Homo sapiens: one gene and its partner. The protein of the gene in region 1 purifies or fractionates together with the protein of each later gene. This does not show direct contact. Each region holds a gene or a part of one and is shown in the gene's direction. Other genes may lie near its edges. The genes, in order: CD24 and FGR.

Region 1 (3,907 bases):
CTGAAACTTACTTTGTTTTAATGAGACTGCCACGCAAAAGTGAAATTTAGACAAATTTAGAATCTTACTACTCTGTGGTTTACTTTAAAGACCGAAAAATGCTTGGGCTAAACCTTAAATAAAAGTATTAAGTCTTGCAATTAAAAATTGAACCAAAAATACTAACGAGAGTGTTCTGCAAAACTGAAATTTAAACAAATTTACAACCATACTAGGTTTGGTCTCTGCTGTTTGCTTTAAAGACTGAAAAACACTTGGGCTAAACCTTCAATAAAAAGATTAAGTCTTGCAATTAAAATTTAAACTCAAAATACTCCACCAGTAAAATTACTTCAACTTTTGTTGTATGCTTGAAAGTTTTCACAATAAGATGGATAGGAAAAAAGTATTCCACCAAAATCTAAAGAGTGATGACGAATCTCCTCTTTGTGCCGGTTCATTAAATTGCCTAATGGCAACTACGGATAAGTAAATGCCTTTATCTCGAACGGTTCTGCTCTTTAAACGAATGACGGGCAACAGAGACCGAAAAAGTGTATCCCCAGGAATTCGAGAGGGACGGTGAATTGTAGTGGGACCGCCAGGAGGGGAGGTTCCTGCCCCCGAGTAGAACCTGGGAGCAGAGCCGCTCGGGGAGGGCGGTGGGGGCTTCAGGGCCGCGGAGGGGGTCCCCTCAGGGTGGGCCGTCTCCTCCTCGCCCGCCGCAGGCAGGAGCGCGGGGGACCGAAACCCTGTAGTTTGCAGCGTCAGGCAGCGGGTCTGCGCCCAGCGAGCGGCTCCCCAGCTCCTGGGAAGATGCGGACCCGGGACGCCCCCGTGAGCTCACTGCGCCTGGCTGACACGAGGCGCTCACAGAACAAAGCAAGGGCTTCGGGGAGGGCGCGGCCGCGGGGCCGAGCGCGCAGATCGCTCCGGACCCGGACACCGCCTGCGAGGAGCGCCGACCAGCCGGGAAGGGTTCGCGCTAGGCGGCGCCCGGGTCCCGTCGGCCAGGGTGAGCGTCCGGCCCGCGTCCGCGCCACGCCCGCCGCGTTCCCCTTTCCTCTGCGGCGGGCCGAGAGATAACCCTGCCCGAGGGGTCCCGGCGCCCGCCCCCCACGCGGTCGCACTGGAATTCGCAGCCCCTCTCGGGTCCCCGGGGCGCATTTTGCAGTCTGAGTGGCAATGCACTTGCTCCAGGACAGGCGGCTACCCCGCCGCAGCGGAGGCGCGGACTTTTCTTTTGGGGGGTAAGATGGCAGGTCCCGGGAAACAAAGGAAACTTGGGCCCGGCCCCCAGCGCGGCGTGTGTGGCTCGCGTGTGTGCCCCGGGTCCTGTGCCGGAGGCGCTGGGCGCCTGTGCCAGCCTGCCCGCAGCCCGCAGCCGGCGCGGGGATACCAGCCGGGTACCAGCAGCCGGCGGCGCCCGCCCACCTGCAGCGGCGCCCGCCCGGGGGGCTCCCGGCCCGCGAGGGCCGGAGCGGCGGTGGCAGTGGCGGCGGCGGCGGGGGCGCTGGGGAACCCGGAGCGGGGCGGGGAAGGCGGGGAGGCGGCGGGCGGCGGCGGAGGGGAGCCGGGGTGGGCGGGCGGCGCCACGTCACGGCTATTGTGGCTTTCCTGGTATATAAGGTCTCGCCGGCTCGCCGCGCTCCCCACCTTGCCTGCGCCCGCCCGGAGCCAGCGGTTCTCCAAGCACCCAGCATCCTGCTAGACGCGCCGCGCACCGACGGAGGGGACATGGGCAGAGCAATGGTGGCCAGGCTCGGGCTGGGGCTGCTGCTGCTGGCACTGCTCCTACCCACGCAGGTGAGGCCCTGGCGCCCGGCGGGGCTCGAGGGCCGTTCCCGGGGTGGGGGCAGGGGAGATGGACCCGGTCCCGGGGGACCGTCCTGCGCTCCTGCCTCGGGCCACGGACAGGGACCGGGAGAGAATCTTGCTTAGCTGACCAGGGGAGAGGGCCATGTGGACCCCATTTTTCCATTCCCTTGCGTGCTGCCCCCCCTCCTCCCACGGCCCTGGGAACAATGCAGCTCCGCGTGCGGGCTGAGAGGACCCTGCCCCACCCCAGGTTCCACGCTGTCCCTTCCCAGGCAGCCAGGTGACTACTTCCCACTTTCACCCAGAGGCCCGAGGTGCCTGCAGGGATTAGCGCCTGGAGAGCTCGGGCTCCCTGGGGACGTTGTCCCTGGGTCCCTGAGGACTCGCTTTCCCCTAGGAATGTCTTCGCGCTCCCCGCGCTCTACACAAAGAGAGGCGACGGTCCCTTTCGGGGAGGGCGGCTCACGCCCATCCTCCACCCTCGGAGTTGGATTGGGTATCCCGGAGAAGCTACGGCTATCTGGCCCTTTTTAAACAAACCCCGGTTCCGGGCTGAAGCCGAGGCGGGGACCCTCTCCTGACGCTGCGCTCTCTGCGAGGCAACCTTTCACGTCCATCGCTTGTCATCTTAGGATCCCCATGTTATTTTAGCCCAGATTGGCTAGTTCTGGGGAGGCAGCATGGTGGGACGATTCTGTCCCGAGTCCCCGCCAGGCTTTGTTCGGGTCGCCGCTACCAGCGCGGTCTCCCTAGATCCTCCATCCGGGGAACCTCGCCCCGGGTGCGGGTACCCGGGGCCGCGCAGCGCTGCCTCGAGGGTGTATGGATGCACCGCGCCGGCGAGAGAGACCGGGGGCTGGGCCTGGGAGACCCTAGCGGGGGCGGGGGCGAAGAAGGTACGTTTGTTTGGGTCAGTTCGGGTTTGGAGGATGGGAGTGACGGCTCTCCAGCGCCTTCGATTGGGGTTAATCGAGGACTGTCACTGGGGCTTCTCCCCCAAAGTTGGGCGCGCTGCGTCCTCCGTCCCCAGACATCGAAAGTCCGGGCTCACCTGGGAGTGCAGCCTGAGTGTGGAACGCGCTTCCCCACCGCTGGCGGGGTAACCGTACCCTATTGTCTTCCTCCCAGTCCGCTGCGCTCCCGAGCCTTCCTCAATTCTTTGATGGGGGAGGGGCGCGGCTGCGAGAAACCGGCCCCCTCCACTCCCCGCCCCATCTTCTCTCCGACCAGATTTTTTTCCTCCAACATTGTAAGTGAGAAGTTTTAATAATGCGAATAAATCTAGCTTGGGAGAGAAAATTTTGTTTAGTGTCAGTTTAATAAACATAATTTTTTTGTTGGTGTAGAGGATCTTTAGATCCTCAGATTGATACACCAGGTTTTAAAAAGAAAACATCACCTGCTGCAGTAAAACTCATTGCATGAATAAAGAACAGGTTACTTTGCGGGATCCCAAACAAGGTGTCCAAAACAGGCACCCTGTTTTAAGTAAATTACCATATTAATGCTTTTCTTTATTGGGAGTGCCGTTTCCTGATGGGACACACTAAATCTTGCACACAGTAGGTGCCCGATAAATAAATTTGACTTGATCAAGATTTTTTTGTTGTTGTCACTAATCTATTTTGGATAGGATTTGTACATTTCTGTAGTCAATATTTGTTTAATGACCTTATGGATTTTACAACAAAAGGAGCTGGTGCTGATGTAGGAGGGCTTTATCTTTGGATTAATAGGCAGCCAAATGTACACGGGGCCCAGACTCTTGCCTGGTGCCACGTCCTCCCTCCAGCCTGTAATCAGAAGCTCTTGTAAACCCTCCCTTGCAGTGAGGGCTGAAAACTCCGATCTGCCTTTGTTCCATGACAAAGGAGAGATTATCACGTGCCCTACTGGACTGTGCATTTCGTGGCTTGAAAAATCAGTGGTGAATGATGCCACTCAGACGCTGGGACACTGGGAGAACCTTGGTTCTTGGCCACAGCAATGAGCTTGGCGACCAGTGAGGCTGCTGCTGGTGAAACTTAACACCATAACCTCTCGTTGTCTTTTGTGAAATCGTTCCGACTTCATGGTGTTTTCTTGAAGTCATTCTGCCTTAAAGGAAAAA
Region 2 (3,807 bases), on another chromosome or scaffold:
AAGACCCAAGAGCTGCCTACCTCTGCCTGCTGACGACACGGTCAGTCCTGCCAGGGCTCTTCCTGAGCCCACAGAGCTTCCTTCTCAGATGCTGATAGTCTCTCCCTTCCAGCCATACTGGGCATGCAGAATTCAGGGATCCCCTCCATCTGATATAGATATGTTGTGGCAATATATACGTGGGTATTATTGGAAGTGGCAATATTGTATCTGTGTGTGAACATGAGAGATTGTATAAGTCTATGTTCTCCTATAGAGGAGAGCTCTATGTGGGTCCATGTCACCGGAGAGGGCTGTGTATATCTGTGTGTGTGTGTGTGTGTGTGTGTGTGTGTGTGTGTGTGTATCCCTACATGGGGGGTGGGGGGACAGTGTGGGGGCATCCGCATTTGTGCATGCTAGCAGGAATGGCTGCATCTGTCTGTATCTGTGATAGGCAATGGAGAGAAATGCTTGAAAGCTCAGATTCTGGAGCCAAACACCAGGATACATCATGTCTGTGGCCTTCTTTTTTGAGACAGAGTTTCACTATGCTGCCCAGGCTGGAGTACAGTGGCATGATCATAGCTCACTGCAGCCTCTATCTCCTGGTCTTGAGTGGTCCTCCTGCCTCAGCCTCTCGAGGCACGTGCCACCATGCCAAGCTAATTTTTGGAGTTTTTTTGGTTTTTTTTTGTTTTTTTTTTTTTTGAGACAGAGCTTCACTGTCACTCAGGCTGGAGTGCAGTGACAGGCGTAAGCCACCGTGCCTGGCCAATTTTTGTATTTTTTGTAGAGATGGGATTTGCCATATTGCCCAGGTTGGTCTCGAATTCCTGGACCCAAGCAATCCTCTTGCCTTGGCTTCCCAAAGTTCTGGGATTACAGATATGAGCCACTGTGACTGGCCAACCCTGGGCAGGTTTCCAAACCTCTCTGTGCTTCAGTTGCCTCATCAGTAATAATAATACTTAGGCCAGGTGCAGTGGCTCACCCCTGTAATCCCAACACTTTGGGAGGCCAAGGCAGGTGGATCACTTGAGGTCAGGAATTCAAGACCAGCCTGGCCAACATAGTGAAAACCCATCGCTACTAAAAATACAGAAATTAGCCTGGCATGGTGTTGGGTGCCTGTAATCCCAGCTACTCAGGAGGCTGAGGCAAGAGAATGGCTTGAACCCAGGAGGCGGAGGTTGCAGTGAGCTGAGATCATGCCATTGCACTCCAGCCTGGGTGACAAGAGTGAAACTCCCTCTCAAAATAAATAAATTAATAATAATAATACTACTTAAATCATAGGGTTGTGTGGATAAAATGAGATAATATAGGTAAAGTGCTTAATGCAGTGGCCAGCGCATATAGTAAGCGCTATAAATTTTGTATTTGCTATTCTTTTATAGAGGATGTGTGTGTGTGTGTGTGTGTGTGTGTGTGTTCATGTGCATGCACATCTATGTGCAGACGGATGAGGGCTGGAGGTGTGTGTATATGGGGTGTGTGTACACTAGAAGATGTTTGTGCTAGGAATCTGTGCAGAGGAGCCTGGAGCCTGTGCATGAGGCAGCTGAGGTAATGTGCCAACTGAGAAGGGGTCTGAAGGGCTGTGTGGATCTGGGTATCAGCATGGTGCGCCATTTGAGGTGTGTATGTGTGTCTTCCTGTGAGAAGGCTTTATTCTCACCCTTGGTTTTTCTGTTTTCTTTTTAAAATAGAGACAGGGTCTTACTCTGTCTCCCAGGCTGGAGTGCAGCGGTGCAATCACAGCTCCTGCAGCCTCGAACTCCCAGGCTTAAGCAATCCTCCCACCTCAGCCTCCCGAGTAGCTGGGACTACAGGTGGGTGCCATCAGGACTGGCTAATTAAAAAAAGATTTTTTTTTATAGAGACGGGGTGTCCCTATGTTGCTCAGGCTGGTCTCAAGCTCCTGGGCTCAAGCAATCATCCTGCCTCGGCCTACCAAAGTCCTGGGATAGCAGGTGTGAACCACTGTGCCCGGCCTCACCCTTGTTTTTGTATCAGCCCCATCTCTCTTTTCACCAGTTCCTGAAATCCCTCCCGCTGGGCCCTGGATGGCTTCCAGTCCTCCACCTCTATTTTCTGCCCTGGCTCTAACTAGCCCTGTAGCATCCTGGGGCGTTTTAGACACAGTGGTTTCATCCCAGGGAGGGGTCCCGGGGCAAAGGTCTCAGGCAGGGCCCAGTGAACAGGGGCTATTTTAGGGCAGGCTTCTCACCACAGCCCGCCCCACAGTTCACCACATGGGTGTGATGCCCCCACCCCCACCCAATACACACATGAGAGATCACTTAGAGCAAAGGGTGAGAGGGGCAGGTGGGGCTAGGGTGGAGACCAAAGCACTGATGTGACGGAACCATCAGCCAGGCAACTGGACCTGGTGGATCCAGGAAGACTTTCTGGAAGAGGTGAGTGGTGCTAGGTAGAAAGGATAGGACCCAGAGAGAAGAGGAAGAGAATATCTGTAAGGATGACTGGACTGGGGATCGAGAGAGAGAAGCTGGGGGCCCTTTCTTCTAGGACCTTGGGGCCCCTCTGGGGCAAATCAGGGTTCACAAGGTTGGCCCCACCCTAAACTCTCCATTCTCACATCTTAGGAAACCAAGCCCTCTCACCAGTCGGTTCCTCTCTGAGTGTTGCAATGGCAATGTTTCTGGCAGGGTGTGGGGGACCCTTGCTCAATGACCTCCTGCCCTGTTGCTCAGAGGATACCGCTGCCAGAAAAGGGTTGGCTCATTGTGGGGCTTCCCAAGGTACTCTGGTAGCCCCAGCTTCTGACCTGGTCCTTTCTCTGGTATGGGGATAGGAGGAGAGCTCCGGAGGTAGGTATCCACTCTCACTCAGCCACCACATGGAACCCTAGGGTGGCTGGGAGCACAGCAGGGTTCAGAGGAAGGACTGTTTTTTGTTTGTTTGTTTGTTTGTTTTTGAGATGGAGTCTTGCTCTGTCACCCGGGCTGGAGTGCAGTGGTGCGATCTCGGCTCACTGCAAGCTCCACCTCCCAGGTTCAAGTGATTCTGCTGCCTCGGCCTCCCAAGTAGCTGGGACTACAGGCGCCCACCTCCACGTCTGGCTAATTTTTGTATTTTTAGTAGAGACGGGGTTTCACCATATTGGCCAGGCTGGTCTCGAACTCCTGACCTTGTGATCCACTCACCTCGGTCTCCCAAAGTGCTGGGATTATAGGCGTGAGCCACTGCGCCTGGCCGGAAGAACTGGTTTTTAGGAGATGGTGACTGGGGACTGTGAGGGAGCTGAGCATGGCTTGATAGAAATCCTGTTAGAGAGATGATTATAATGTTCAAAATCATGTGTGTCTGAGTGTGTTCGTCTGTTAACCTGGCAGGCACCCCATGTATATGTGCATGTGTATGTGTGTGTGCTATTGTGAGCTTGGGCTTGTTAGAGCCTGTATTGGCGTGTGATGGGGTTGGCACGCACACTCATGCAAATATATGCTGTGAGTGTTATTGTGTGACTGTGCTGGTGGGTCAGGTGAGTATGAGTGTGAAAGAGAGCTGGTGTGGGTGGTTTGCCCTATGTGACGGGGGTTGTGTAAGTGTGCCAGGGGTGATAGGAAGGAAAGTGAAGGCAGAAGTCATGCTGGGGCAGAGCCCAGGCCTTCTGGCTTCCTGAAGAGGGCAGGAGCTGGGCAGCTGCTGACAGAAACATTGGCAGAGACTTCATCTTCCTTGTCCTTCTGTCTCACCCTCAGGTCTCTGACCCCTCCCAAGGATCATGCCGCAGCCCCACTGACCCAGGAGTAGGGGCCTAAGGGGTGAGTGGGGTAGACTGAGGGCTTTCAGGGTCAG

The links.
Region 2: the proteins of CD24 (region 1) and FGR purify together in Homo sapiens (affinity purification with western blotting, with the first as the bait; one study listed by BioGRID). This does not show direct contact.

What each region holds. Positions count from the first base shown.
Region 1 is NC_000006.12:106,972,456-106,976,362, reverse strand, and holds the start of CD24 (signal transducer CD24 isoform a preproprotein), read left to right. Parts: upstream 1-1,633; 5' UTR 1,634-1,716; coding exon 1,717-1,785; intron 1,786-2,323; exon of another isoform or gene 2,324-2,477; coding exon of another isoform or gene 2,478-2,693; intron 2,694-3,907.
Region 2 is NC_000001.11:27,625,055-27,628,861, reverse strand, and holds part of FGR (tyrosine-protein kinase Fgr), read left to right. Parts: intron 1-2,264; exon of another isoform or gene 2,265-2,402; intron 2,403-2,610; exon of another isoform or gene 2,611-2,816; intron 2,817-3,710; 5' UTR 3,711-3,773; intron 3,774-3,807. UniProt on the Homo sapiens protein: Non-receptor tyrosine-protein kinase that transmits signals from cell surface receptors devoid of kinase activity and contributes to the regulation of immune responses, including neutrophil, monocyte, macrophage and mast cell functions, cytoskeleton remodeling in response to extracellular stimuli, phagocytosis, cell adhesion and migration.